Homo sapiens: one gene and its partners. The protein of the gene in region 2 interacts with the protein of the main gene of each other region in a biochemical or structural test. Each region holds a gene or a part of one and is shown on either strand. Other genes may lie near its edges. The genes, in order: DTNA, SNTG2, DMD and VCPIP1.

Region 1 (7,027 bases), on a different chromosome or scaffold from region 2:
TCTCAGAAATTAACCCTCAAATTTAATTAATTATGTTAATAGCATTTATAAGTCACTAGGAATAGAGGTGCTTGGTATGTTATTATCAGACTTTATTATAAAATATCTTGGTTTTGTTCAATAAGCGATAGAGGCTGTCATCAAAAATGATTAAACTTAGATATGCAGCGTTATTTCTGAGGGCTCTGTTCTGTTCCATTGATCTATATCTCTGTTTTGGTACCAGTACCATGCTGTTTTGGTTACTGTAGCCTTGTAGTATAGTTTGAAGTCAGGTAGTGTGATGCCTCCAGCTTTGTTCTTTTGGCTTAGGATTGACTTGGCGATGCGGGCTCTTTTTTGGTTCCATATGAACTTTAAAGTAGTTTTTTCCAATTCTGTGAAGAAAGGCATTGGTAGCTTGATGGGGATGGCATTGAATCTGTAAATTACCTTGGGCAGTATGGCCATTTCCACGATATTGATTCTTCCTACCCATGAGCATGGAATGTTTGTATCCTCTTTTATTTCCTTGAGCAGTGGTTTGTAGTTCTCCTTGAAGAGGTCCTTCACATCCCTTGTAAGTTGGATTCCTAGGTATTTTATTCTCTTTGAAGCAATTGTGAATGGGAGTTCACTCATGATTTGGCTCTCTGTCTGTTGTTGGTGTATAAGAATGCTGATCTTTGACAAACCTGAGAAAAACAAGCAATGGGGAAAGGATTCCCTATTTAATAAATGGTGCTGGGAAAACTGGCTAGCCATATGTAGAAAGCTGAAACTGGATCCCTTCCTTACACCTTATACAAAAATCAATTCAAGATGGATTAAAGACTTAAACGTTAGACCTAACACCATAAAAACCCTAGAAGAAAACCTAGGCATTGCCATTCAGGACATAGGCATGGGCAAGGACTTCATGTCTAAAACACCAAAAGCAATGGCAACAAAAGACAAAATTGACAAATGGGATCTAATTAAACTAAAGAGCTTCTCCACAGCAAAAGAAACTACCATCAGAGTGAACAGGCAACCTACAAAATGGGAGAAAATTTTCGCAACCTACTCATCTGACAAAGGGCTAATATCCAGAATCTACAATGAACTCAAACAAATTTACAAGAAAAAAAACAAACAACCCCATCAAAAAGTGGGCAAAGGACATGAACAGACACTTCTCAAAAGAAGACATTTATGCAGCCAAAAAACACATGAAAAAATGCTCACCATCACTGGCCATCAGAGAAATGCAAATCAAAACCACAATGAGATACCATCTCACACCAGTTAGAATGGCAATCATTAAAAAGTCAGGAAACAACAGGTGCTGGAGAGGATGTGGAGAAATAGGAACACTTTTACACTGTTGGTGGGACTGTAAACTAGTTCAACCATTGTGGAAGTCAGTGTGGCGATTCCTCAGGGATCTAGAACTAGAAATACCATTTGACCCAGCCACCCATAAATCATGCTGCTATAAAGACACATGCACACGTATGTTTATTGTGGCATTATTCACGATAGCAAAGACTTGGAACCAAGCCAAACGTCCAACAATGATAGACTGGATTAAGAAAATGTGGCACATACACACCATGGAATACTATGCAGCCATAAAAAATAATGAGTTCATGTCCTTTGTAGGGACATGGATGAAACTGGAAATCATCACTCTCAGTAAACTATCGCAAGAACAAAAAACCAAACACCGCATATTCTCACTCATAGGTGGGAATTGAACAATGAGATCACATGGACACAGGAAGGGGAATATCACACTCTGGGGACTGTTGTGGGATGGGGGGAGGGGGGAGGGATAGCATTGGGAGATATACCTAATGCTAGATGACGAGTTAGTGGGTGCAGCACACCAGCATGGCACATGTATACATATGTAACTAACCTGCACAATGTGCACATGTACCCTAAAACTTAAAGTATAATAATAAAAAATAGAAAAAAAAATGATTAAACTTATCAAGAATTGTACAATGTGTGGGTCAGTATCTGACAGGAAAAATGCAAACTCATTTCTAGGAAAGAACAATTAGTTATATTTTTAGTATATAAAGGGGCAATTAACTGGTCTTCACTTCATGGTATTATTAGCTGGATATTTTAGAGTGGTATTACTATAATAATTCCCCACTCTCAAACACACATGTTATGAAATGTTCACTAGACACCATTTCAATATTTTAATTGTTTTTAATTTTTTAATTATTTATTTTAAATAAACAATATTTTATATCTGAAACCTGTTAATTTTGATTTGTTTGGTGGAACATTTACTCAGAAAAATTACTTACCTCTACACATCCCTGACATGAAAGAAAATACTGGATGGATTGGCAATTCCAGTATAAAATATGGATCTATGAAAGTAGTGAAAGAAAATATAGAACTTATGATAGAAAAGGATGACCTCAAAGACAAAAATCATAAAGGAATGGTAATATGAAAACTTACTCCTTCTAGAATATGTTATATACAAAATTAAAAAGATAAATGGCAAATTAGAAACAACATTTGCAACATATATGAAAGAGAAAAAGTGAATATCCATGTTATGTAATGAGGTCTCATAAATCTGTAAGAAAAAGCACTTCCCTTTTAATTTTAAAAATATCTACAAATTAAACACATGTCATTTTAATAATTAGCAACTATTTTTTAAAGGGGAAAGCAAAAGGAGGAAGGGGGAGATAATGTCTGGTTTAGGAAAAGTCTGGAAAATGGGAACACATATACACTGCTATCATATAGCAGTGTACACTGGGTGCAGGTGGGGAGTTGATCAAGCTGGCAATGTGTAGCAAAGTCTTTAAAAATTGCATATCCTTGGGCCCTACAGTTCTACTACTAGGAATATGTCCTAACAAAATAAATAGTCTAACGTATTTACATAGTTTTTCGTTGTTTCAGACAATAGCAGTCTGAAAAAGAAAATCCAAGAAATATAGAAAACACATGAGCTCGTATTTCCTCTCTAGAAGCTATAAAGCTGTAAGAAGTCGGCCGGGCACCGTGGCTCACACCTGTTATCCCAACACTTTGGGAGGCCGAGGCGGGTGGATCGCCTGAGATCAGGAGTTGGAGACCAGCCTGGCCAACGTAGTGAAACCCCATCTGTCCTAAAAATACAAAAAATTAGCTGGGCGTGGTGGCAGGCGCCTGTAATCCCAGCTACTTGTGAGGCTGAGGCAAGAGAATCGCTTGAACCCAGGAGGCGGAGGTTGCAGTGAGCCGAGATCACACCATTGTACTCCGGCCTGGGCAACAAGAGTGAAACTCCATCTCAATTAAAAGAAAGAAAGAAAAAAAGCTGCAAGAAGTCATAGACATGGCTATATGCTGGTCTAACTGTTGACTTCCCAACTCTTTAGATGGAACATGTATAGGCAACATGGTGTAGAAAAAGAGTCTTGGCTTAAGAATTGGAATGCCTGAATCATGCTACTAACTAGCTGAGTTAATATAAATATGCAAATTTATGAAATTATTAAAATAATAATGTTAAAGAGTAGAAAAGTCTGTGAATCCCTTTACCCATGTATATGTGTTTGTCTTCACCGCTGATTTGCAAATAAGAAGTCTCATATCAAGTGGGAAGGGTAGATTTTTATAATTTCACTGAAATTCAATACCAAATGGTAAAATCTGGAATGCCTTGACTGTGAGAGAAAATAACAAAATATTTTAAATAGGGTATACATTCCAATTATTAGTTTTTGAAATTTATTCTAAAGAAATTTCTGCTCATATAAGGATGGGCAGAGGATAACTGGGCTTGAATAACTGGGCCACACCTACATTTAGGTGTGGTGGAGAGGCAGAGCTCCAGAGCAATCTGTTCAAAATTCTGTGATGCTGGAAATGCTCTATATCTTCTTAGTCCAATATAGTAACTACTAGCCACATGTGGCTATTAAACACTTGAAAGGTAGCTAGTGCGACTGATGAAACAGATTTCAAATCTTATTTAATGCTAAGTAATTGAAATAGCCACGTGTGTCTAGTGCTATCTTAATAGACAGTGACACTCTAGAATTAAGCACAACAAATAGGGTCTTTTATTTAATATCGGAGGTTAATTTCAAGCACCTCTGCTAAATTCGGATGATATAGATAGGACAAGAAGGTGAGTATTCTTTGTGCAATTTCCCTTTTATCTACAGAAATACAGATCAATGAAATCCTTTGATTCTAGTGACTGCAAGTCCAAGATTTTCCAGAGAAGTGTTGGTCTCAAGTAGTCTGTAGTTTTGTTTGCTTAAGAATTTTAATGCTCATTCATTTTCTCATTTATTTTTTTTAAAAAACCTTATATTGAATATATTTGTGTTGGACACTGACATTGAAAAGATAGTAGTAGTGCAGAGTTCCTTGATTCAGGAAATCCTTGGAGTATCCTAAGGAGTAAATGGTGCAGAGCAGATATTACAGAGGAGGGGAGAGAAAATGCTGTGTGGAGAAGGAAGCACTGGGATAAACCTTAAAGAAATGGCCAGTGTTCAATAGGAAGCTGGGGAAAGGAGGATCTTGAGAAACAGAACAGTATGGGAAAACCAGGGAGAGATGAGAATCAGAAATGTCTGGAAATGTAATAATGGCAGCAGCACAGAAAATAGACTAGTGTGTAGACAGAAATGAGTCCAGAAGTTAATGTTACAATCCAGAACAAGTATGAGGGAGGTTATGAGCTAAGGGGATGAAAGTAGAATTTAAAAAGAGTAGATTTGAGAGGTGTTTTGTCTGTTGCTTCTCTTTACAATAAGTCAGGTAGAGAACAACTGATTTATCTTTTAAGCCCCCTTGAAAATTGTCGATTACTGCATACAATGCTGGAGCAGGATTTTTGTGGCCAAGGAAACTGAGCGTATCTTACAATATGCAAGTTTTTCAAACAGGACCAACTTACATAAATCATCCTCTTGGAAGTAGGCGCAACTACATCATGTATGTAGTTGAAATGTATGACACATGACAATTTTGTTTGGGGATGTAATGTAACTGAGGTGGAAACTTAATATTTATGAGACTTCCTCTTTCGTTAAAATCTTAACATTCTTTGATTTTGACAAATAGTGTTTTTATTTCTTCCAAAAATACAAGAATTTTAAAAGTATATAATTAGGCATCGTTTAGAAAGGTCAAAAAAGCAATCGTCTGTTGAATTTATGATTTGGGTACATTATTCTTCTCCAGTCTTTACCCCATTTTGATGGACTTTTTTCTCTTGGCAGTATATCCAGGTTCATTTATAGGTGGGAAGACAGTAGAAGCTGTTATTCCAGCATCAAAGCCCCCACTGTTTTCTAATAAGACGTTAGGTTTTATTTCTTCCAAAGCCTTATGATCACTGCAGTCAAAAAAAGAAGGGTGGAAAATGCAGAAAAATGGTGGAGGAGGTGGAGTATGGTCTTGGTCATAAAGAAATGAAAGGAGAAAGGTATTACTGAAGAGTATGGGCATTAGTCTGACTGTAAGGAGGACTTTGGCAGTAACTACAAGCCAGAGTGAGTGAGGAAAGAATAGCAGCCATTTGGGCAATGTGCTGACCATGTGTGGCTTGATACTAGGAAACCTGAACATACAGCAGGACAGAGAGGAGCACATCATGTGAGAGTTCCATGAGTTCTCGGATTTAAGAAAATAGAAGACTTTCTAAGTGCCAGATACTGTTCTAAGTACTTTTTGTTTAACCTATTTAAGGCAATTAACCCTTTTTTTTTGGAGAACAGTCATAGAACATGGAAATCACTGAAGAAATGTAAGTAGTGGTGGGATGCAGTGGCTCACGTCTGTAATCCCAGTACTTTGGGAGGCTAAGGTGGGTGGATCACCTGAGGTCAGGAGTTCAAGACCAGTCTGGCACCAACATGGCGAAACCCCGTCTCTACTAAAAATACAAAAACAAAACAAAAACTAGCCAGGCATGGTGGTGTGGGTCTACTGTAGTCCCAGCTACTCAGGAGGCTGAGGCAGGAGAATCACTTGAACCAGGGAGGTGAAGGTTGCAGTGACCCCAGATCGCACCACTGCATTCTAGCCTGGGTGACAGAGTGAGACTTCATCTCAAAAAATAAAAAAATAAAAAAATAAGTAGTTATTATCTCTCCATCAATCCTCACAACAACCCTATGAGCAGGGTACTTTTACCATCTTTATTTTACAGATGAAGAAATTAAGGCCCGAGAGGTTAAGTAATCCCCCAAACAGCATACAGTTAATCAGAGAGAGCTCTATTTAATCAGCTCAACTACTACGCCATCCTGCCTACTCTTAATCTATGTTAATTTTATAATATGTACAGAGATGATACTTGTAACGTGCTCACAAAGTGCCTGACATATAGTAAACCTGCAAAAATGTTAGCAATTATCATTATGTAATAAGATTTAGAAGACTTTCCGGTATTTATGTCATTCTACACCGACACTGCTCAGAAATAGTAACAAGATTTTTAGGGCAGCTCTGGATTTTTCTTATGTAAAGTGTAAAGAAAGCTTTGTTTAGGAGCATGCCCTTATAAATTGGAGAAACTCTTCTTCTACCCAAATACTGTCAATCAGTTTGACTGGCACAGTTGAAGTTTTTACCTCAAAGAATGGGCCTCATTGAAATGTTCTATATACTCATCTACATGGCTCTGACCTTCTGACAGAGAATGACTGCTGCTAATGGTACTAATAAGAGCAAATGGAATTCCCTTCCAAGCTTGGTATTTGAATAATATGTCAATTTGTTCATTGCCGTCTTACTAGGAATTAAATGCGCTAATATTTTTATAACCTAAGGGAGCTAGTGCGAGGTTGGCAGCCAGAAAAGGGAATCAGGCCAGAGGCTGGCCAAGGCATAGTCATGAGGGGGTGGAAGGGTCACAAAGTCAAAGTCAAGCAGGTGGACCCAGGCAGAACCCAACCAGACTCTAGAACAAAGTTAGGTTCAAAGTTTGGTTCTTATCTCCTTTCCCTATAATGTGGGCTGGTAGGGGTGGGTTGATTGTCATCCTCTGTACAAAAAGAATTGTATGGAAAATTAGCTG
Region 2 (7,027 bases):
GAACCAACAGCCATGCCCGGGAACCCTCAGAGCTCACCGTGCTCCCATGAACAGGCATTAGGAGCACCCCCTTCAGAACCTACAGCCGTGCGTGGGAACCCTCAGAGCTCACCGTGCTCCCATGAGCAGGCAGTAGGAGCACCCCCTTCAGAACCTAGGAACCCTCAGAGCTCACCATGCTCCCATGAGCAGGCAGTAGGAGCACCCCCTTCAGAACCTACAGCCATGCCCGGGAACCCTCAGAGCTCACCGTGCTCCCATGAGCAGGCAGTAGGAGCACCCCCTTCAGAACCTATAGCCGTGCCCCGGAACCCTCAGAGCTCACCGTGCTCCCAGCTCCTCCACGAGGGCAGAGTCCTCTGTCTGCATCCAGCTGAACCCTGAGTTCCAGGGCTCACCTGGGAGACAACAGGAATCCAATCTCACCGATGAGAAAATAAGGCACACATGACCCTACCCTGAAAAGCATCGTGCACTGAAGCATTCCCAACAAAGGAGAGAACAAAGGAGAACAGGCAGCCCGAGCTCTCGGGAGAACTGTGGGGCCCAGAAGCCCAGCATTCCCCACTGTGGGATCCTACCAGGGAACAGGCCTGGCTATCAGCTGGGATTCCTAAGCAACACTGTCACCCTAGTCACAGACGCCTGAGCCAGTGCAGCAAGGACAGGTGCTGCTTTCCAGACAGAAGGGCAAAGGACCGTGTCATTAACAGAGCCCCCTCCTACGGGAACACCTGCCCGAAGCCTCTCCACTGATACAGAAGAACCTTAAGCAGGGGGATGATGGTAATTGATGGATATTTCTTAGCAAACTATGAAAATTATCATTTTATAATGAGAATTCTAAAAAGCAGGATAGAAAATTCTATCTTGAGGATGAGTTTAACTTACAGAATATACACCAGAAAAAGCCAGAAGGAAATCTATGAGCTGCTAGATAGGTATAGACCAGGTCACAGGAACTTTCCTTCCTTGTATTTTTCCATCTCATATTCACTTTCAGTACTGAGATACGGATACCATGCCACTATTCATACAAACATCAAAGGAATAAAGGAAATGTATTTACTCCAAAGAAGGGGATAGGAAGATTCAAATCACATCCCCAAAGGTTCCCTCCATCTGCACAGCGGCACCCGAGATGCAGCCTCCAGCCCCGGGTCACAAAGGCAAGGCCTGCACGATGCAATTCTGTGACACTGGTCTGCTCCGTTCACCTTCTCCATTCAGCCCAAGGCCAGTAAAGCAAAGGCCGCCCTGAGACTTTGCACAGCCCACTGCGGGAACACCACACCCCCAGGCAGCCCCCTGCACCAGGCGACCCTAGCACAGCTGAACCCTGGACCTCCCCCCGACTCCAGGCCTCCCTGACTCCCTTCCTCCTGCCAACATGGAAATTACAAATCTAAAAGCATTCTGATTCCACCCTGATTAAAACCAAAAGAATCTGTAGGTCACGACAAAATTTGATAAAGCTTTGGAAGAAAATAATTGCAATACATAAAGCTCATAGCATTTTCATAGATCTGTGCTGGTCCTCTCCTCAATTCAATAAGGAAGAGTTGCATAAAAGAATATTTACATCCCAGCGCTTACAAAGCACGTAATTCACATATGCAGCTGTTTCCTAGTGGGTTTGTATCTTGTTCTGATAGGAAAGCTTTCAGTTTACTTCCTTTTTTCAGCTACTAGATTTTCCTCTTTATTCGATTACTAAATTTACAATATTATTCAACATAGAAATGAATTTTTTAAATATAATTAAACCTTATATAAGTGTTATACATTACAAAATATATTACAATTTGTTCTATTTCATTTTGTTGCTACAAAGAACAAATGTATTTTATATACAGAGAAAAAGTGGTCTTATCTGTGTGTGAGTCCTTATCCTTTATTACCTTTTGTTATTAGCAGTTTCAGAGTTTGGTTCTAATTTCTTAACTCTTACCCAAGCATCATTGTTTTAGATATCGTACTATCCCAAAATTTTGACTGTCATAAGGCATGTTTGATACTATAACTCCTAACATCAAAATATTAAACTATGTAAGAAATAGTACATTTTACTGTACTACATCTAGAAAGCTAAAATAGAAAATAATTTGGAAGTCCACACAATTTTTTTCATATCTCTCTGGATTTCAAATGAACCACTTTAAAAAAAAAGACCATTTATTTAGATTATAATGTATTTTGGTTACAAATTCATGTTCTCAATACCTTTCAAATTCTTAACCCCAATTTAGATAATGGTGACTTTAGAGGTTTTCTTTTTTTTCCTTTTTAAAGCAATTACAGTGTAGGTAATTGACAAAGCTTCTGCTAGTTCAGCTTCAATAAAATGTCATATCTTTGCAGAGTCTTTTTATGAAAAATCCATCTTGAAGCACCAAATCTGGAGAATATCACATAGTACTCTGCATGATCTCAACATCATTTCACTGCTATGTGTGTGGGGAGGGGCTGCATGAGCTGTTGCCATCTACTCGACTTATGAACCTGTTCCCATTTTGTATGACAACCTCAGTTATAAGAAAACAGTTGTATATTCCTCCTGATTCTGATTTCCTAATTCCTGTTGTTATCCTTTTGTCTCACAAGCAATAACCACTTAAAGGAAACGCATTTGGGGCCATTTCTCAGCCTTTGCACGTGGGATAGAGACATCTCTCTCACAGTCAGACGCCCAGGGGCTGCAGCCACCATGCGGACCACACCTCACCTGCCGTCTCTACAGTCTTATGTGTAGGTGGGGAGCATCAGCAGTACCCCAGGGGTGTTAAAGGAACGAAGCCCTCCAAAGAGCTCTTAGTACCTAGTAGATGTTAGCAATTAGGTAAGTTCTAACCTGGGGGTTCTGGGCTCAAATTCCCTACATTTCTAAGAAGATATTCCCTAAAAGCTATATTACTTACCTAAAAAGACTGATTAGCTTCCCACGGCTGCTATGACAACACTTCCTCAAACTTAGTGGCTTAAAACAATGCACATTTATCTTCTCACAGTTCTGGAAGCCAGAAGTCCAGGATCAAATTCCTCCAGAGGCTCCAGGGAGCCTCCTTCCTGCCTCCTCTAGCTCTGGTGGCTGCAGGTGCCCCTGGCCTGTGACTGCATCTCTCCCGTCTCAGTCTCAGTCTCAGTCTCAGTACCAGTCTCGCCTTCCATGTGCCGGAAGACAAATGTTGCCCGACCTCATCTATAGAAGAGGGAACACATTGTAGCTGCCCTGTGCTGTTTCGTGTCTGCTTGTCTAGAATTTGCCTCTCAGGTAGTCAGGGCCCCACTGGCCTGGTCTGAGAGGTGTTCTACTCTATTTTTATCTTTAGCTTCCAGCTCAGTGTGTGGCAATTAATAGGTACTCAATCATTCTTCTCTAAATTCTGTGTGTCTGTGTCTGCACGTACGTAAGGTGCATCATGATAAAGCAATTCTCCAAATGGCACTTAATCATCGCCAAACCCCCAACTTTCAAAAGGAGGCCTGAGACCCAGAGCTACTTCCCACCACCGTTCCCCATCCGTTGCTCCCCCTCAAGCAGGGAGGTGGTAAAATTTCTAGTGTTTCTGAGGAGGTAATACAAAGGCTGGACTTTCTCTATCTACCTTGCTGCAGACCATGATCGTTTTAGGAATAAAACCAGACTTGGATTTCTTTCAAGACCATATGACCTATGCTAACTATGACCAAGTTGGCACACGTTTCTAAAAACACTGCATCTAACTCATCGGGTTCTGGATGTCCCCAGGTTTAGGTATAAGAAGTAATTTCATATTTCTCAGTACATAAAGAAAACTTAATCATGTAAAAAGGCAAACTGACAGAGCCATTTGGTAAAATATAATTATCTGCAGAGAAGTCATGAAGGATAATCTTGAGCAGGATACAGCTGAGAAATAGAATTATATTTACCATTAAACTTATGCTGATGTGAAAAATTAAAATCAAAACATAGCTATTCTAAAAATATGAAAGCACAATTTTACTTAAATCCAAATAAACTGGGCATAAATACAAAATAAATTATCAGTTCAAAAACCAGAAACGGAACTTTCTCTCTAGTTCATAGAAACACATACATCTAATTCAGATATATACTTATTGGCTCAACTGACACATGGGTCAGCTACCACGCAGCAGGGCAGAACCGAGTTCCCCGGGCTGTGTCCTTCTGAAAGCGGCCCCTCCACGGGCTCACAGCAGCAGGGGACCCAGGTGCCACTTCCCTCCTAGACGCCCGACCGAGATGGGCCCATTCACAGCCACGGGTGGGCCGGGGCCCTGGGGGAGCGGGTCCTCCGCAGGAAGGGGCATGGGTTGCGGGGGCAGGTGCTGCGCCTGGTGAGATGCAGCCTCCAGGAGAGGCAGCTGAGCAAAGGCCCTGGGCCAGGGCAGGCAGCGCTCCACGTGCCCAACCAAGGTGTGTGAAGGCCCGAGGGAGGAAGGATGCAGCCACGGGGTGAGTGGTTATGCTCCAGCCTGGGAAGGGCAGAACACAACCCTGCTCCGGACTGAGCTGCAGAGAGGAGTTTTGGAAAGGTCCGCGCAGAATGCCCAGCAGGGGCAGGCGCAGGGGGAGGTGCAGGGGCAGGGCAGGGGGAGGCGCAGGGGCGGGGCGGGGCAGGGGTGGGGCAGGGGCGGGGCAGGGGCAGGGGCAGTGGCAGGGCAGGGGTAGGTGCAGGGCAGGGGTAGGTGCAGGGCAGGGGCAGGGGCGGGGCGCGGTGGGTGCAGGGCATGGGCAGGGGCAGGGCAGGGGTAGGGGCAGGTGCGGAGCATTTGGCACAAGTCAGGGTCAGGGGTAGGGGCAGGGGCAGGGGCAGGGGCAGGGGCCAGCACAGTCACAAGGGCAGTGGGTGGGGCCAGGGCAGATGCAGATGCAGATGCAGGGGCAGGGGCAGGGGCAGGGAAGGCTCTGAGGCAGGGCCGGAGACAGTGGCAGATGTGGGCCCCTTGGCCTCCCTGGCACCAGCTTCTAAAAGGAGGGTAGCTGGGACCCCAGACTACGGGAGGCCTCCCTGTTCGGAGTGAGAGGACTTGCTAGAGGACTTGCTGCCAAATCCAAAATAAGTGATGATTTTGTTCAGAACAACTGGCAGCTGTATCCCACTTCAAAAATGCAGATTATTTTCTAAACACCCGCTCAACGAACAGAAACATTCTTCCATGGAATCTGAGTGCGTCCCCATGGCTGTGCCCTTACCTATAATAATTTATGAACTACACAATAAAACATCTGCAACTATAAGCATTGTTTACAGAAGTGGAATTTAATTCTTGCACAGGATTTGTCATTTAAACTATTTTGATGAAGGTAGGAGTAATTACAGTGATTTCCTGGTCAGTCCATACTTAGAGACCACTGCCACTGGCTGAGTACAAGAAGAAAGTTTGTCTTCTGGAGCTGGGGTCCAAATAAAAACAAGAGGAAAAGTAAATTTATAAAATGGAGGCCAATAAGCACGATATTTAGGACACTTGATTCTAATGTTCTATGTGATTGTTTTTATAATAACACGATTCGGTGCCATCATCAAATGATGTTCACCCAAATGTCGAGTGAATGTTGGTAACTCCCAGAGTTGATACTCAGAATCTTGACAGTGGAGGGTCACCTTTTTCATTAACACTAATGCGGATTATTGCAAAATAACAGGCCATGCACTGATCTAGGTTTCAAGTCCAGAGAAGTGAATGACATGCAGTTTCTTTACAAAGTATAACAGATAAAACAGAATTAAAACTTAGCAGTTTAGCAGTTAGCAGACTGTGAAGTTTAATAGTTTTTGCACTAAAAATATAACTTTACATTTTACAAATGTTTAGAACAGTATCCCCTAAATAAGAAGCATACTCACTTTCTTAAATCCAAAGTCTTTGCTAAATTAAAATGTAGCTAGTTTATAATCATATTTATAGGATGTAAAAATGTAGACTCCTTAAAAAGCAAACTATTTTAACATGTAATTCTAATTGCAAAATCACATCCTCATATTCACAGCATTGTTAACAGTATTTATTAAAATGTGCAAGGGGAGAAAACAGGAAGGTTCAGGCTGATGGGGTGAAGAAGCAGCACGGTCCCTGGAAGGCAGCCAGAAATGGGTGAGCTTTTGGAGGGCCTTCTTGTTCAGAGGGGCAGGGGATGAAGAGCCACAGGCTGGGGTCAGTCCTCAGGTGAGGGATTACACCCACATAGGGGAGCTTAGCATTTAATACAGAAATAGGAAGGATAACCTCGGCTTCCTGAATTTTACAGGGAACTTTAGTATGGACTGGGGGAAAGTGACATCTAGTGTTAGCTGAAAATAATCCAAAGTCGACTATTCAAAACTACAGTCATGACAACATGCGGTAACCAGCTGGACAACAATGACAAGTACACACCAGTTCAAGGTCCATTTTCCATTAAATCCTGAGTGCATTTTTCCTCCAAAAGCATGTTTTCCACCTTCCTTGTTGTGTCTCACTCAACAAAAATACCTCTAGAACTAATTAAAGAGTGAGTTTCTGAGGGATTTGGAATCAGATACAAAGTGACCTTCGGAACCCAAGCACACATTCCACAGGTGAGAAGCCAGAGCCAGAGAGGATGGTGGTTCCCGAAGCCGGGGTTCTCTGAGTTCCCTGGAACCCTGATCTCCCTCCTTCCTTCTCCATTTCCACGAGCACCTGCCTGTGTCCGCCCCATGCCCAGCAGCGCAGGAGCTAGGGGTGCGCAGCAGAGCCTGAGAGCAGCTCCTCTTTGGGGTCCCTCGTGTGCCTGCTGTCACATGCTACATGAGCTAACAGGAAAGCCAGAAAATCACACTGCTTAGTAAGTCTATCCTGAATATACCCATTTAGTAAATAGGAGGCCTGCGATGCAAACACACCCTCTGTCACCGAGAACTGCAATGCCAGCCCCTCTGCCAACTCACTCAGAGCCTCATGGGGTATCTTGAGAAGCAGATCTAAATTAAAACTGAAGCTTAAATGCCTTGTCTACAGTCATCATCCATAAAGATATCCAGAGACAAGAAGCTGTTGC
Region 3 (8,016 bases), on a different chromosome or scaffold from region 2:
GATGTGGAGGTTTGGGGTACTGATGATCCAGTCACCCAGGTAGTGAGCATTGTACCCAGTAGGTAGTTTTTCAGCTCACACCCGCTTCCCTCCATTCCCCCTCTAGTAGTCCCCAGTATCTCTTGTTCCCATCTTTATGTCCACTGTGTACTCAGTGTTTTGCTCCCATTTATAAGTGAGAACATGCGGTATTTGGTTTTCTGTTCCTGTGTTAATTTGCATAGGATAATGGCCTCCAGCTGCATTCATCTTGCTGCAAAGTACATGATTTCATTCTTTTTCATGACCATGCAGCTAACCAAGGAGGTGAAAGAACTATACAAGGAGAACTACAAAACACTGCTGAAAGAAATCAGAGACAACACAAATAAATGCAAAACATTTCATGCTCTTGGATTGGAAGAATAAATATTGTTAAAATGGCCATACTGCCCAAAGCAATTTACAGATTCAGTGCTAATCTTATCAAACTACCAACGTCAATTTTCATTTTTCATTTTCATTAGAAAAGACTAATCCAAATTTGTATGGAACCAAAAGAGCCCATAGAGCCAAAGCAATCTTAAGCTAAAAGAATAAAGCAAGAGGCATCACACTACCTGACTTCAAGCTATACTATAAGCCTACAGTAACCCAAACAGCATGGTACTGGTACAAAAACAGACCATAGACCAATGGAACAGAATAGTGAACCCAGAAACAAAGCGACACACCTATAACCATCTGATCTTTGACTAAGTCAACAAAAATAAGCAATGGGGAAAGGACTTCCTATTCAATAGATGGTGCTGGGAAAACTGGCTGGCCACATGCAGAAGATTGAAATTGGACCTCTACTTTTCATTATATACAAAAATCAACTGACGGTGAACTAAAGGTTTAAATATAAGACCTCATACTGTAAAAAATCCTAGAAGAAAACCTAGGAAGTACCCTTTTTTACATTGGTCTTGGCAAAGAATTTATGACTAAGTCCCCAAAAGCCATTGCAACAAAAACAAAAATTGACAAGTGGAACTTGACTAAGCCAAAGAGCTTCTGCAAAGCAAAAGAAACATCAACAAAGTAAACAGACGAAGAATGGGAGAAAATATTCACAAAATATGCATCTGACAAAGGCCTAGTATCCAGAATCTATAAGAAACTTAAATCAACAAACCAAATACAAATACATTCATTAAAAATGGGCAAAGTATATGAACAGACACTTTTTTTTTTTTTTTTGAGATAGGGTCTTGCTCTTAGTCCAGGCTGAAGTGCAGTGGCACAGTCTCGGCTCACTGCAAACTTCACCTCCCCTGCTCAAGCGATTCTCCAGCCTCAGCCTCCTGAGTGGCTGTGATGACAGGCGCCTGACATCACGGCTGTATTTTTTTTAGAGATGGGGTTTCACCATGTCGCCCTGGCTGGTCTTGAACTCCTGAGCTCAAAGCGATCTGCCTGCCTCAACTTCTCAAAGTAATAGAATTACAGGCATGAGCTAACACACCCGGCCTGAACAGACACTTCTTGAAAGAAGACATACAAGCGGCCAACAAGCATATAACATTTTTTAACAACGTAAACATTTTTAAATGTGCTTCTTTTTACAAACTGGCCGAGTGTGGTGGCTCATGCCTATAATCCCAGCTCCTGGGGAGGCTGAGGCAGGAGGATTACTTGAGGCCAGAAGTTAAAGACCAGCCTGCGCAACATAACAAGACCCTGTCTCTAAAAAAAATATTAAATTAGCTGAATATGGTGGCATTCACCTGTAGACCCAGCTACTCAGAAGATTGAGGCAGGAGGATCACTTGAGCCCAGGAGTTTGAGACTATAACGAGGTATGATTGTGTCGCTACACTCCAGCCTGGATGACAGAGCAAGCCTCCATCTCTTAAATGAAAATTTCTTAAAAAGCAAAAACAAACAGGAAAAGAACGGGTTTTGGAAACTCTGCTGTTTTCCTTTTTTTGTGCAATCACATGCATAACCGACAGTAGTGCCATTATATTAGAAATATTAATATATCTAATCACAACACAAAGCACTGTGTAAAAAAGCCGAGTATGATGAAATAAATTAAAGATAACCTAAATATTGGACATATGTACTATGTTAATGAATTGGAGGAATCAATGCGGTAAAAACATCAATTCTTCCAAAATGTATTCATAATTTTAATGCAATTCCTATCAAAATTCTACCTGAAAGATATTCTGTAGATAGATCTGTAGATCTATTTGTAGATAAACTTATTCTAAAATTTATATGGTAAATTATAACCACACTCTGGGACATGAATCTAGAGGAATGAAAAATGAAAAACTACATGATTGTTTTGCAGCTTTATTTGTAGTGACCAAACCCTGGAAACAACGAAAATATCCCACAGTATGTGAATAAAGTAACTATAGAACATCCATGCCATGAACTACTACTCAGCAATAAAAGGAAATAAGCTATTGATGACAACTTAAATGGATCTCAAGTACAGAATGCCAAAAAAAAAAAAAAAGCCAATCTCAAAAGGTTACATACCGAATCATTGCATTTATCTAATATTCTTAAAATGACAAAATTACAGTGATGGAGAACAAATTGATTGGTACCAGGCTTTAGGGATATTTAGGGAGGGTGACTGTTGTGACTGTAAAGGGGTAGCATGAGGCAAATCTCTGTGGTGATGAAACAGGTGTTTATTTGTGGAGGTTGAGGTTACACAAATCAGTGATGAAATAGAAATATGTATACATATCAATGTCAGTTTCCTGGTTTTGATACTGAATTGTAGTTATTGTAGGATACTGAATTGTAGTTATTGTAGTTAATCTTTGGGAGAAACTGGGTGAAGGGTACATGGGATCTCTGTATACTATCCCCGCAAATTCCTGTGAATCTATAAGTATTTGAAAATAACAAGTTAAAATAAATTTTTAAAAATTCTGTGACAGTTATTAAAAATGGAAATTTGAGCAAGTTCCTTTATTATGGGGCTAATAAGACCTACAAGATGTAGTTATTCTGAGGACTAAAGGAGAAAGATAAGTGATTAAGGGACACAAGAAAGTACTGTGGTGACACAGTCTGAACTGGAGTTCAATTTGTTCGGTCTAAATTTTATTTTACGTGCCTTTCACTTTTCCAGTTATTGTAAGCATATATTTGCACCTGGATTATAAAATCTTAAGGGAAGTATATGCATTCCACACAATGCAGAAATCATTATAGGTGCCAAATAAATTCTGATTATCAACTAAGGCTGAATGGCAATTAAATGTATCTCAGGGCATTCAGATCTATCAGGATTTGGTGCTTTAGACATTACCCAGGACACATCTTTGTTACATTTAGAACCACGGTTGTTTTTAGAAACATACACTTTAGGGTTTCTCAAAGTTGACCATGCATTAGAATCACCGGTAAAACACAGAGTGCTGTGTCCCAACCCCAGAATTTCTGACTTTTGAGGTCTCGTGTCAACTTGCATTTCTCAGAAGTTCCCACGTGATATTGATGTTGGTTTGGGACCGACAAGTTGTATTCACGCCTTGGCCTAAACAAGGGTTTATGTTTGTAGAAAACTCACAGTGCAAGATACAAAGGGCACTTATACTCTGGGCAATATTGTACCTCACAGCATAGAGGGACACTGATGCTAACATGCAGACTTAGAGCCAAATCAGCCCCAAAACAATTTTTTCATTTTTTCTATGTTGTTTTATGAAAATTTTGCTTATATGCATATTTAGACAACCACACTGAGAGGAAAGGAGGTGACCTAGGGAAAAGAATGTTTTAAATTAAAATTAGGCCTTATGTTTTATCTCATACACCTTTTGCTGGGGAAAATAGCAATGTTATGACAATAATATTCTAAAACACAAAATGTACAATTAACTATTAAGGTAAACATCACAGTCTGACTCAATATTTTTTTAATTTTTATCTATTACTCATTGCAGTCGCAAGCAGTTGAATGTTTGACATAGAAAAATGAGTCTGTCACTTTAACAAATGGTACAATAAAAACACTCAAACAAAAATTTTAGTAGGGATTATTATAACTATAAAAAGAATATCTTTCTTTAAAAAATGTTTCCAATGTTTTCTATCAATTTTGGGCTCGCCTGTTGCATAAAAGTAATAAGGAACAAGATGAAGAAGCTTTCTATTGGCAAAGAATGATTTACATGCTGAATGACATAATACAACTGTATTCACTTAATACAGAAAACAAGCCTCTATTCAGAACCATTAAATGATCATTAACTCAATGTCTAAAAAAATGGTGTTTTAAGAATTGGCACCAGAGAAATGGAAGAAAGAATAATTTGTTAGTAAAGAAGTTTTAGCATAATTCACAACTGAAATTTAGGATTTGAGAAAAATTTCTTTCCTGCATTATAAGAGTATTCTTTATTTTAGCAGGAAAACATGTCCCATGAGACCTATACACACACACATTCTGCCTTCAGAATTCAGCTGCTGCATTCTGCTGCTGCTTCTCTTATTCAGACTGTTGGCATCATCAATACATAACTTTTGATTGAATCCCAAGGGGAAAAAATAACTTTGGTAGACAGTGGATACATAACAAATGCATGGATTATTCTGGGCATTCCTTTTTATTTGGTAGAGTGAAATTTTTGGTGTTGTTGAGAGGATAAAAAAGGCATTTAAAAGTCAATTTTGAATCCGGATTTTCTGCTCTGTTAATAAATTCACATGAAAGTTACAGAAAGTATTGTTATGCTTTTGTACTGAATAGTTTTTGTGTTTAGAAGGCTTTAAAAGCAAGTACTATGTCCACTGTGCTATTCTGGTTTGGATATTAATCAGAACACAGTTGAGCATTGTTTGAATTCACAGAGCTTGCCATGCTGGAAGCACAACCTTATATGTAGTGACCATGGACAGTCCTATTATGGGAAACCAACTTGAGAGAGAAGGCGGGTCACTTGCTTGTGCGCAGGTCCTGGAATTTGAAATATCCGGGGGCCTCTACAGAATCCTGGCATCAGTTACTGTGTTGACTCACTCAGTGTTGGGATCACTCACTTTCCCCCTACAGGACTCAGATCTGGGAGGCAATTACCTTCGGAGAAAAACGAATAGGAAAAACTGAAGTGTTACTTTTTTTAAAGCTGCTGAAGTTTGTTGGTTTCTCATTGTTTTTAAGCCTACTGGAGCAATAAAGTTTGAAGAACTTTTACCAGGTTTTTTTTATCGCTGCCTTGATATACACTTTTCAAAATGCTTTGGTGGGAAGAAGTAGAGGACTGTTGTAAGTACAAAGTAACTAAAAATATATTTTACTGTGGCATAACGTTTAGTTTGTGACAAGCTCACTAATTAGGTAGATTGATTTTAAATTATCACAGTAGTTTGCAAAGAAGCATAAATGTTATATATACTGCATATATATATGTATTTATTCAGGAATATATATTTTTCATTGGGAAAACTTTTCAACAGAAATGGAGTGTAAAAGTTTTTCTTTGCGATAGAACTAAACACATGATTTCTTGATTAACAAACCACTGCAGTAATAGAATATGCAGAATGTCATTTGACTATAACAGATTTATTTTGATTGCTGTGAGATAGTTTGTATATCTGAGTTATTATTTTGATTAGTTGATACTTCCGTATTTAGTAACAGTTACATAAAGGTTACTGACCTGACATATATTCTCAATTGAACTAACTACTGTATAGGAACTACATGGAGGCCTAAAAGTTAGAAAAAGTTTCTCTGACACATCATGGATAAAATAAAGAATAAAATGAGTTGGGACGGATAATTGAAGGATGTGAAAAGTATTGATAAAGATTTAATTTTAATGTTTCTTACTCACATTTACTATTTCAAATGCTCTTTTCTGTAGCATATCATGATAATTATTTCAAATAATGATGTGATCTATGCTATCAAATGATCAGATGATTTCTTGGGTAAACGACATACAAACTTGAGGAACTCCTAATTATATTTAGTAGTAAAGTCACCTTGTTGTTTCATGTCTATTATGAGCCAGCTTTTCAGTTCAATTTTTTAGTTTGTCTTTCATATAGAAATACAACTATTTCGTTTATTTTTAAGAAAGTCATGATGACTAATGAAGGATTTAAAAATGGACTGTGGCACAACAGTAAAAATAATATATGATAAGGACTGTGTGTCCCGAAGAGATGGGAGTTTATCTCTTCCCCACCCATCTTTGACTTGTGGAGTGTAGTTATTCTAAAATAGATATGAGGGCAATGCCTATAATTAAGAATGAAAAAATAAATCTCTCCAAATAAGTAATGCTCCACAACTACTAAAAAAAAAGGCAGAAGTTTTGCCACTGGGAAAACTTTGTGGAAATAAGTTAACATTGTCCATGTATTGAGTCACATTAAAAGCTACCAGACTTTATAATACAATATTTACTTACATTGTTGGCTTGCTTCATAAATTTCTTTTGGTGGACATCATTATTACTTTTAGATTGAAAAACTATTATATTTACTATCATTACAAATATATGCATGGCATATATCTGTTGTTTGCAATATACACACACATTTTTATTTTTTGTTTTTATTTCTTTGATATATGTAACATAAATACCATCAAAATCACTAGTGATTTTATATATATATATATTCTACATAATTAACATCATATACAAGTATATAGAGCAATTTTGAAAGAATATATGCAATTCTGCTGAAATTAAGCAAGGTAAATCTACACTCTGCTTTGTCATAGATATTCAAATAACTTTCAATTCTTAGAATGCGAAGAAAGGTAATCTTTTTGGGACATGCCCTGTAGGATTTTTTCACGCTGCATTTAAAAAATCATCAAGTAATGCCTATGCAACATGACAATGAGTTTGGTAAGAAAAAACGGAGATATACTCAGGGCTATATTATACATTAAATTTTGCTGTTTGACAACATACTGCTACTTGGATGTTTGACATTTGAATCCAGTTTGTAAATTTGCCGTAGTTTGATAAACTTACAAAAGTACGTTTTGTTGTTTTTTAACCAAAACAGTTACCCTTTAAAAGAGATCACTGTATTGTCAAACATATTGTATTGTTCACTTTTAGAATTACTCAAATAATGCATTGTAAAGAATTATTCAAATAGTGTACTGCAAATAGACATTTCATTTGAATATATTTAAATGATGTAAGTCATCTGAGGTCTAATAAAATCACCTTTTAGAATTTCATCTGCAGAATCTTTTAAAGACATCTTAACTACGAAAAAGAGATTGCTGATCTAAATTGATGATATACTGTTAATACAAAGCTTTTGGTGTATCTTACATGACATAACATTATGAAAAATACAATAGAGTATGTCATATAGATGTTACTCTAAACTTTAAAAAAAGACTACAAAGTGTTCTATGCATAATTACATTATTTAAGGGGAAAAAGGTGTTGGCTGACACTATTCCAGCTAGACAGTACTGAATTGCAAATTCATCATTTGGGCACAGATATTAATACAGCTTCCTCTTTATTCCTATAGCATTCATTTGAAATCCCTGTACTCCATGTCATTTGCTACATATGAAACAAATTGTCAAGTTTTTAACCACTTGTGTAGTTTAATAAAAGAGATTAAAATCATTGTCTTGGAAACATCAGGTGTTTTTCAAAATTCTATTTTATTATCTTTCATCAAAATTTTATCTCAAGAGTAAAACAAAGTCATTTCCCAAACTTTCCTTCTCCTTCCACCTTCTATTGTAATATTTTCCTAACTTATTAAAAATGATTTATCATACTTTTTCATCAACTCTTTATTTCATCACACATACAAGAAACACAGTATTTTGGTATGAGTATATATATTTATATATATGCACATTTATATGCATTCAAATCACAGGGTATAAAGTTTCCTAAGAGGGTCTAATTAGAAATTAACCTTTCTTTAAAGATAATTTTCTGTTCATTTTTCTAAATTTTCTATTTTAAACACACATCATTTTTTAAGGAATTGACAAATGAGACTAATGTACAT
Region 4 (7,027 bases), on a different chromosome or scaffold from region 2:
AAAATGTATTTTTAAAGCCCCAAAAGAAACACCCAAAACGAACTCTGAACTCAACTATTTATGACCATAAAATGAAGTACTTGTTTATTTAAATTTAAAATTTAAAGAAACAATTCAAAATTTTTTAATAATTTGAATAAATGGTTCCAAATATAAAGTAGGAACACAGGACTGTTTCAACTAGACAGAATTCCAAAGGTAAAGGTATTCATTTGCTGAAAGAATTGTTGGCATCTCTCTACCCTTCCTGACGTAATCCTCACGTTTAAAAGTTTATCTACCCTATTGATAGTCAAAATGGTTTATAAAAAAGGCATATCTGTTTCTTGCCTGAAATTCAGTCCCCTTAACGGTATATAGTCACACAACTTTAGTGTCACCAGCAGCATTAATGAATATTTTTATCATACACAGACATGCACACAAACTCAACAGTGTTTAAATGTGTACAGAGTCTGAAAGGACACATCCCAATTTATTAATAATGATTTTATCTGGGGAGTACAAATGTTAAGAACTACCATATTTTATAGGTACTTGAATTATTTGAATTTTAAACATTATATTGTAATTGAAAAAATATTTAAAATAAAAGTGATCAAAGTAGTTGGAACAGAATCTATTATTATCTAGATTTCCTTTTCTATCTAGAAAGGAATAACATCAATATTTGACTTAATTTTCAAAGTATAATTATATAAAATCACCATTTACAATATATACATTTATCTTAAGATACACCTATGCATTATTTTTTATTCAACTTTATAACTGCTCTCCCATTACAAGTATGCTACATATAAATCAACAGAAGGGCTATCAGAAGGCATAGAAAGAATAATAATATGCAGCCAGACACGGTGGCTCACGCCTGTAATCCCAGCACTTTGGGAGGCCCAGGTGGGCGGATCACGAGGTCAGGAGTTCGAGACCAGCCCAGCCAACATGGTGAAACCCCGTCTCTACTAAAAATACAAAAATTAGCCAGGTGTTGTGGCAGGCGCCTGTAATTCCAGCTACTCGGGAGGCTGAGGCAGGAGAATCGCTTGAAACTGGGAGGCAGAGGTTGCAGTGAGCCGAGATTGCACCACTGCACTCCAGCCTGAGCGACAGAGCAAGGCTCCATCTTGGGGAAAAAAAAAAAAAAAAAGAAGAATATGCATAAGTACTATCTAGATTTGAAACTGCCCTTTACCCAACATTTGAAAAAAAAAAAGGTGCAATAATAATATTCAGTTGTCACCTAAAAAATAAGTGTCTCAGTCCCAAGCGTGATTCTGGAAAATTCTTTTTTTCTTTTTTTGAGACAGAGTCTCACTCTGTCACCAGGCTGGAGTGCAATGGCATGATCTTGGCTCACTACAACCTCCGCCTCCTGGGTTCAAGTGATTCTCCTGCCTCAACCTCCTGAGTAGCTGGGATTACAGGCGAGCGCCATCATGCCCGGCTAATTTTTGTATTTTTAGTAGAGACGGGGTTTCACCATCTTGGCCAGCCTGGTCTCAAACTCCTGACCTCATGATCCACCCGCCTCAGCCTCCCAAAATGCTGGATTAAATGCGTGAGCCACCGCACCCAGCCGATTCTGGAAAATTCTAAGGCATTTACGACATCAAGAGGTATTATGAAATTACAAAATATTGTGTATTTTAAATATATATATACGTTAAAAAGCCACACAATTCTTTCAGGAACAGAGAAAGTATATCAAAATGAAACAAGTTTCTCAACTCCTGAAAGGTTGGTACACTTTGTAGTAAAGCAAGGAAGTGTCATGTAGCCTAATTTCATTTAAGTAACTCCAAACTGACAAATTCTGTTCTTCACCTAAATCTGTCCTTACCTCTAGGAAAACAAAAAAACAAACAAAACTAGAAACTTAATGAAATATAACACTAAGAAAAAATAAATTAGCCCAAATATTTATGGTGGATAATGTACCACCTATCCTGTCTACCATGAAAGAAAACCTACAAATAACTGATCTACAAGAAATTTTTTTTTTTTTTTTGGAAAGAGTGTTGCTCTGTTGCCCAGACTGGAGTGCAGTGGCGCAATCTTGGCTCACTGCAACCGCACCAGGTCTACAAGAAATCTGAATGACATATTTTGCAAAGCCAGAGTTAGTCTTTTAAGTATTATATAAATAATGAAGATGACTGTCTGCAAAAAATTAAGTTCAATTACTTTGTGGTCTGGATAAAAGAGATTAAAAATGTAAAATATTATGGGTAAAATATTGTTATTCCATTTTATAGTTCCTAAGATTCAAAGTTACTAGGTTCCATGAATGACTTGTACTAAGCCAAAGACTAATACACCTACTTATTGTTTTATTAATATAAGTAATAGACGATCTAATCAATGAATATCCTACTTAAAAATGAAAGAAAAAGCTCATGTCCCTGGCTATCATGCAGTCAGCCCATTTAGTGAAAACATACAGGCCGGGTGCAGTGGCTCACGCCTGTAATCCTAGCACTTTGGGAAGCCGAGGCGGTGGATTGTCTGAGCTCAGGAGTTCGAGACCAGCATGGGCAACGTGGCGAAACCCCATCTCTACTAAAAATACAAAAAATTAGCTGGGCGTGGTGGTGCGCACCTGTAGTCCCAGCTACTTGAGAGGTTGAGAATCACTTGGACCCAGGAAGCAGAGGTTGCAGTGAGCTGGGATCACACCACTGCACTCCAGGCTGGGCGACAATCTGTCTCCAGAAAAAAAAAAGAAAGAAAATATACAATCCCCATGTATATATTTGATTCTTAATCAAATGAGAAGTTCTAAAATGCTGTGTTGGTCCTATTTGGGGATTTTATAATTTTTATGTATTTAGAAAATAAAGCTGGAGATCTGCTGATGAAAGCTAAAAAGTATGGAACTCCTTCAGCTGAAAGCCTGCAGGTAAGTTAATGGAGGGCAAGCACTGACTTTCATTTATCTTTGTACACTCAACATACATACAAGTTCATAGTATACACTGATTTTGCTGAAATAATTGCATTCATTAATCCAACAAGCATTTACTTGGTACCTACTATGTGCCAGGCCCTGAACTAGGAAATAAGGTATTGATTAGTGAAGAAAATAGGGTTCAGTCTCTGTCTTGATGGACTTTATAATATAGTGGGGGAGGCAAACAAATAATTAAACCAACAAATAAGATTATTAAAAATTGTGATAGATGCCGTGAGGGACATCAACAGGGTACACTGATAGAGGGAACCTACTTAGAATGGTCAGCAAAGTTTTCTCAAACCCTTACAGGGTGGTGGTATTTAAGCCTAAACTTAAACGAGAAAGAACCAGCTATTTGAACAGCATAAAGTCTGATGAGCTATATTCTAAACTAACATAACACAGCTTAGCTCACATTTGGTAATTCACAAAGTAATTTCTGCACTTTGAAATCTGTAATCTTCTAAACAAGCTCTGTCATTTTCTAGTCCTCTCCAATCTAAACATCAACAGTTCCCCAGTACTCTTTACATATGGTTAGTATTTATCCCCAAACTGAATTTTGTAGGAACATCTTTTTTTTTAAATTAAGAATATCTTCGGCCAGGCGCAGTGGCTCATGCCTGTAATCCCAGCACTTTGGGAGGCCGAGGAGGGCGGATCCCCTGAGGTCGGGAGTTCAAGACCAGCCTGACCAACATGGAGAAACTCTCTCTCTATTAAAATACAAAAATTAGCTGGGTGTGGTGGCACGTGCTTGTAATCCCAGCTACTTGGGAGGCTGAGGCACGACAATTGCTTGAACCCAGGAGGCAGAGGTTGCAGTGAGCCGAGATCGCACCACTGCACTCCAGCCTGGCGACACTGCGAGACTCTGTCTCAAAAAAAAAATCTTCTACATAATTCAAATACAGTCATAAGCGAACTAGAGGAAGAAAACTAAGATTTATAAGGGACTAATATAATACAGGCTATGCACTTAATACTTCAATTTAAAGCAGAAAGTATCTCAAGTGATATCATTACAAAAGTAACACAATGCTCTCTTTTACACCCAAATTTTGTGTTGGTAGTGGAAGAAGTTTTAAAGAAATTTGTGGGTTTATACAGGCATAAATGCTGGATATGAAGAGGGAAGGGATCAGAATAGAAAGACATTATCTTGGTGAACTCATTGCAGTCCATACTCTAGGTTCTCTCAGATATTCAGGTCCAAGAACCTCCAACCAAACTCAGAAAGTATTTATACACCAGAATTATATTTGATTAATTTTCATTATGAAATATATTATCAACCAGGCACAGTGACTCACGCCTGTAATCCCAGCACTTTGGGAGGCCGAGGCGGGCGGTTCATGAGATCAGAAGATTGAGACCATCCCAGCTAACACGGTGAAACCCTGTCTCTACTAAAAATACAAAAAAATTAGCCAGGTGTGGTGGCACATGCCTGTAATCCCAGCTACTCAGGAGGCTGAGGCAGGAGAATCATTTGAACCCAGGTAGCAGAGGTTGCAATGAGCTGAGATCGCGCCACTGCATTCCAGCCTGGGCGACAGAGTGAGACTCTGTCTCAAAAATCTATATATAATCATACCGATCAGATTTTTTTTTTTTTTTTGAGATACAGTCTTGTTCTGTCGCCCAGGATGGAGTGCAGTGGCACGATCTCGGCTCACTGCAACCTCTGCCTCCCCGGTTCACAAGATTCTCCTGCCTCAGCCTCCTGACAAGCTGGGACTACAGGCTCCTGCCACCACACCCGGCTTATTTTTTTTTTGTATTTTTAGTAGAAACAGGGTTTCACCATCTTAGCCAGGATGGTCTCGAACTCCTGACCTCGTGATCTGCCCGCCTCAGCCTCCCAAAGTGCTGGGATTACAGGCATGAGCCACCGTGACTGGCTCTGATCATATTTTTAAGACTACTGATCATAATCCTGCCCATGTCCGTTTATTAGTCTACAATGGAGAATACAGCTTTCAAAGTGAACACGTCCTTATCTGCACTGTCACCTGTACATCAAAACTTGTTATCAGGAAGCTAAATAAGTGTTACGAATAGATGCCTGATGAACATGGAAATCAGGCAAAGGGATAGAGATGTTTCAGCCAGGCCACAGTCAGGATTGTTCAAATATTCCTACCCCTCGACAGAGATTACCTTTCTAGTTACCAGAATTTTCATGAACCCCAGATGATGTACCTTTTTCCTTTGTACAGCAGTATATGAACATTGCCGAATTCTGCTTTTCACTTTTTTCAATGTTCAGTGCTGACTGACCATCCATTCCATTTCTGCAGATACAGCCTTTCTTTAGCTGTGTTAATGTCATCTATTTAATTCAATTAAAAAACATTTCAGAGTGCATACTACCTGCTGAGCACTATTATCAGGTTCTGTGCATACAAGGATAAAGGTAAGAGCCACATTCTCAAGAGTCCATCTTCTATTGAGGAAGATCTTCTCTTTCCTGTTTTTGACCTGGGAGATTGAAGGTCTTTTATTTATTTACTTATTCATTTATTTATTTATTTTTTGAGACAGAGTCTCGCTCTGTCGCCAGGCTGGAGTGCCGTGGCGCGATCTAGGCTCACCGCAACCTCCAACTCCGGGGTTGAAGCGATTCTCCTGCCTCAGCCTCCAGAGTATCTGGGATTACAGTCACAGGCCACCTAGGATTTGTATTTAAGTACACTAGCATTCGTATTTAAGTGACCTTGATCACAAGGTCAGGAGATCAGGACCATCCTGGTCAACAAGTTGAAACCCCGTCTCTACTAAAAATACAAAAATTAGCTGGGCATGGAGGCGTGGGCCTGTAGTCCCAGCTACTTGGGAGGCTGAGGCAGGAGAATTGCTTGAACCCGGGAGGTGGAGTTTGCAGTGAGCCGAGATGGCGCCACTGCACTCCAGCCTGGAGACAGAGCAAGACTCCATCTCAAAAAAAAAAGAAAAAAAAAAAAGAAATATATAAAGTGCGTAGGACAGTTCCTGACATACTCCCCAATTCAATTACTATGTCTGGCAAACTAAAATCAACAATTCCGGGTTCTAAATTTGTGCAGGGTTTTTAGATCCCCTATTTACTACTCCCCCAGATAAGCCAGGAGTAGTATTCATTTTGATAGATTAAGGCCCAAATCACTGCCATATAGTACTATCAGAAAACAGAATCAAAACCCAGATGACTTTTCTCGTTGAAAGCTTTAATCTCAGCAAAAATAAAACCCTTCCAGTAACTAACACATTTAAATTTTACTTCATACTTTAAGACTTAGTAAAGCATACTAAGTTATTTCAAAACAAAGACTAAGCAAATATAGACACTGTAAAAAGTACACCATTGAACAGTATCCCAAATCATCTAAAGCTTTAAATTACACATTTGGTTAATATATTTTTCTTTAATTTATGCTGATTAAAAACAAATACTTCTTTACACCATTACCATCCATCTCTGTTTATGTTTCTCATGAACTACAACTTATAACAGTTCATTATAATTGATGGCAAAGACTTGAGTAGTGAAATTACTTAAATACAAATCCTAGTGTACTTACATACAAATCCTAGTGTATGAGAAAGAAAAATGTGATGAACTGGGAAAGGAAGAAAATGAAATGTAAGAGACTACTAGGTGGGAGTGCAGTGAGAATATAAACACCAGAAACTGCAATTCATCAAACAGGAAGTGCTGAAATCACATGACATACAGGAAAATAAAAATTAAAAATAAATGAAAAAGGGGCAAGGTAGGCAGGATCAATAGAGCCTACCAAAAAATTTAAAACGCTTTAAATAAATACAAGTCTGTTTTTTAAAAAGCAATTGCAAGAATAAGATATATTTAAATAATCTGTTGACTATTATTGAGGGACTACCTTAACTTTCTATTTTCCTAATAGTTACTCAATAATCCTATTAACATCTATCAACTGTTCAAAATACTAAAAATAATTCTCTCCTGAAATATATAATTAAAAACTTACAATGGCTACAGATTTCTTTTCCCCCAAAGATAACAGGAAAACTCAGTGTATTATATTTACAATTAAGATATACCATCAG

The links.
Region 1: the proteins of SNTG2 (region 2) and DTNA form a complex in vitro, tested with the Homo sapiens proteins (one study listed by BioGRID).
Region 3: the proteins of SNTG2 (region 2) and DMD form a complex in vitro, tested with the Homo sapiens proteins (one study listed by BioGRID).
Region 4: the proteins of SNTG2 (region 2) and VCPIP1 form a complex in vitro, tested with the Homo sapiens proteins (one study listed by BioGRID).

Annotation. Positions count from the first base shown.
Region 1 is NC_000018.10:34,713,285-34,720,311, forward strand, and holds part of DTNA (dystrobrevin alpha), read left to right. Parts: intron 1-7,027. UniProt on the Homo sapiens protein: May be involved in the formation and stability of synapses as well as being involved in the clustering of nicotinic acetylcholine receptors.
Region 2 is NC_000002.12:953,834-960,860, reverse strand, and holds part of SNTG2 (gamma-2-syntrophin), read right to left. Parts: intron 1-7,027. UniProt on the Homo sapiens protein: Adapter protein that binds to and probably organizes the subcellular localization of a variety of proteins. May link various receptors to the actin cytoskeleton and the dystrophin glycoprotein complex.
Region 3 is NC_000023.11:33,208,532-33,216,547, reverse strand, and holds the start of DMD (dystrophin), read left to right. Parts: upstream 1-4,998; 5' UTR 4,999-5,235; coding exon 5,236-5,266; intron 5,267-8,016. UniProt on the Homo sapiens protein: Anchors the extracellular matrix to the cytoskeleton via F-actin. Ligand for dystroglycan.
Region 4 is NC_000008.11:66,657,205-66,664,231, forward strand, and holds part of VCPIP1 (deubiquitinating protein VCPIP1), read right to left. Parts: intron 1-7,027. UniProt on the Homo sapiens protein: Deubiquitinating enzyme involved in DNA repair and reassembly of the Golgi apparatus and the endoplasmic reticulum following mitosis. Necessary for VCP-mediated reassembly of Golgi stacks after mitosis.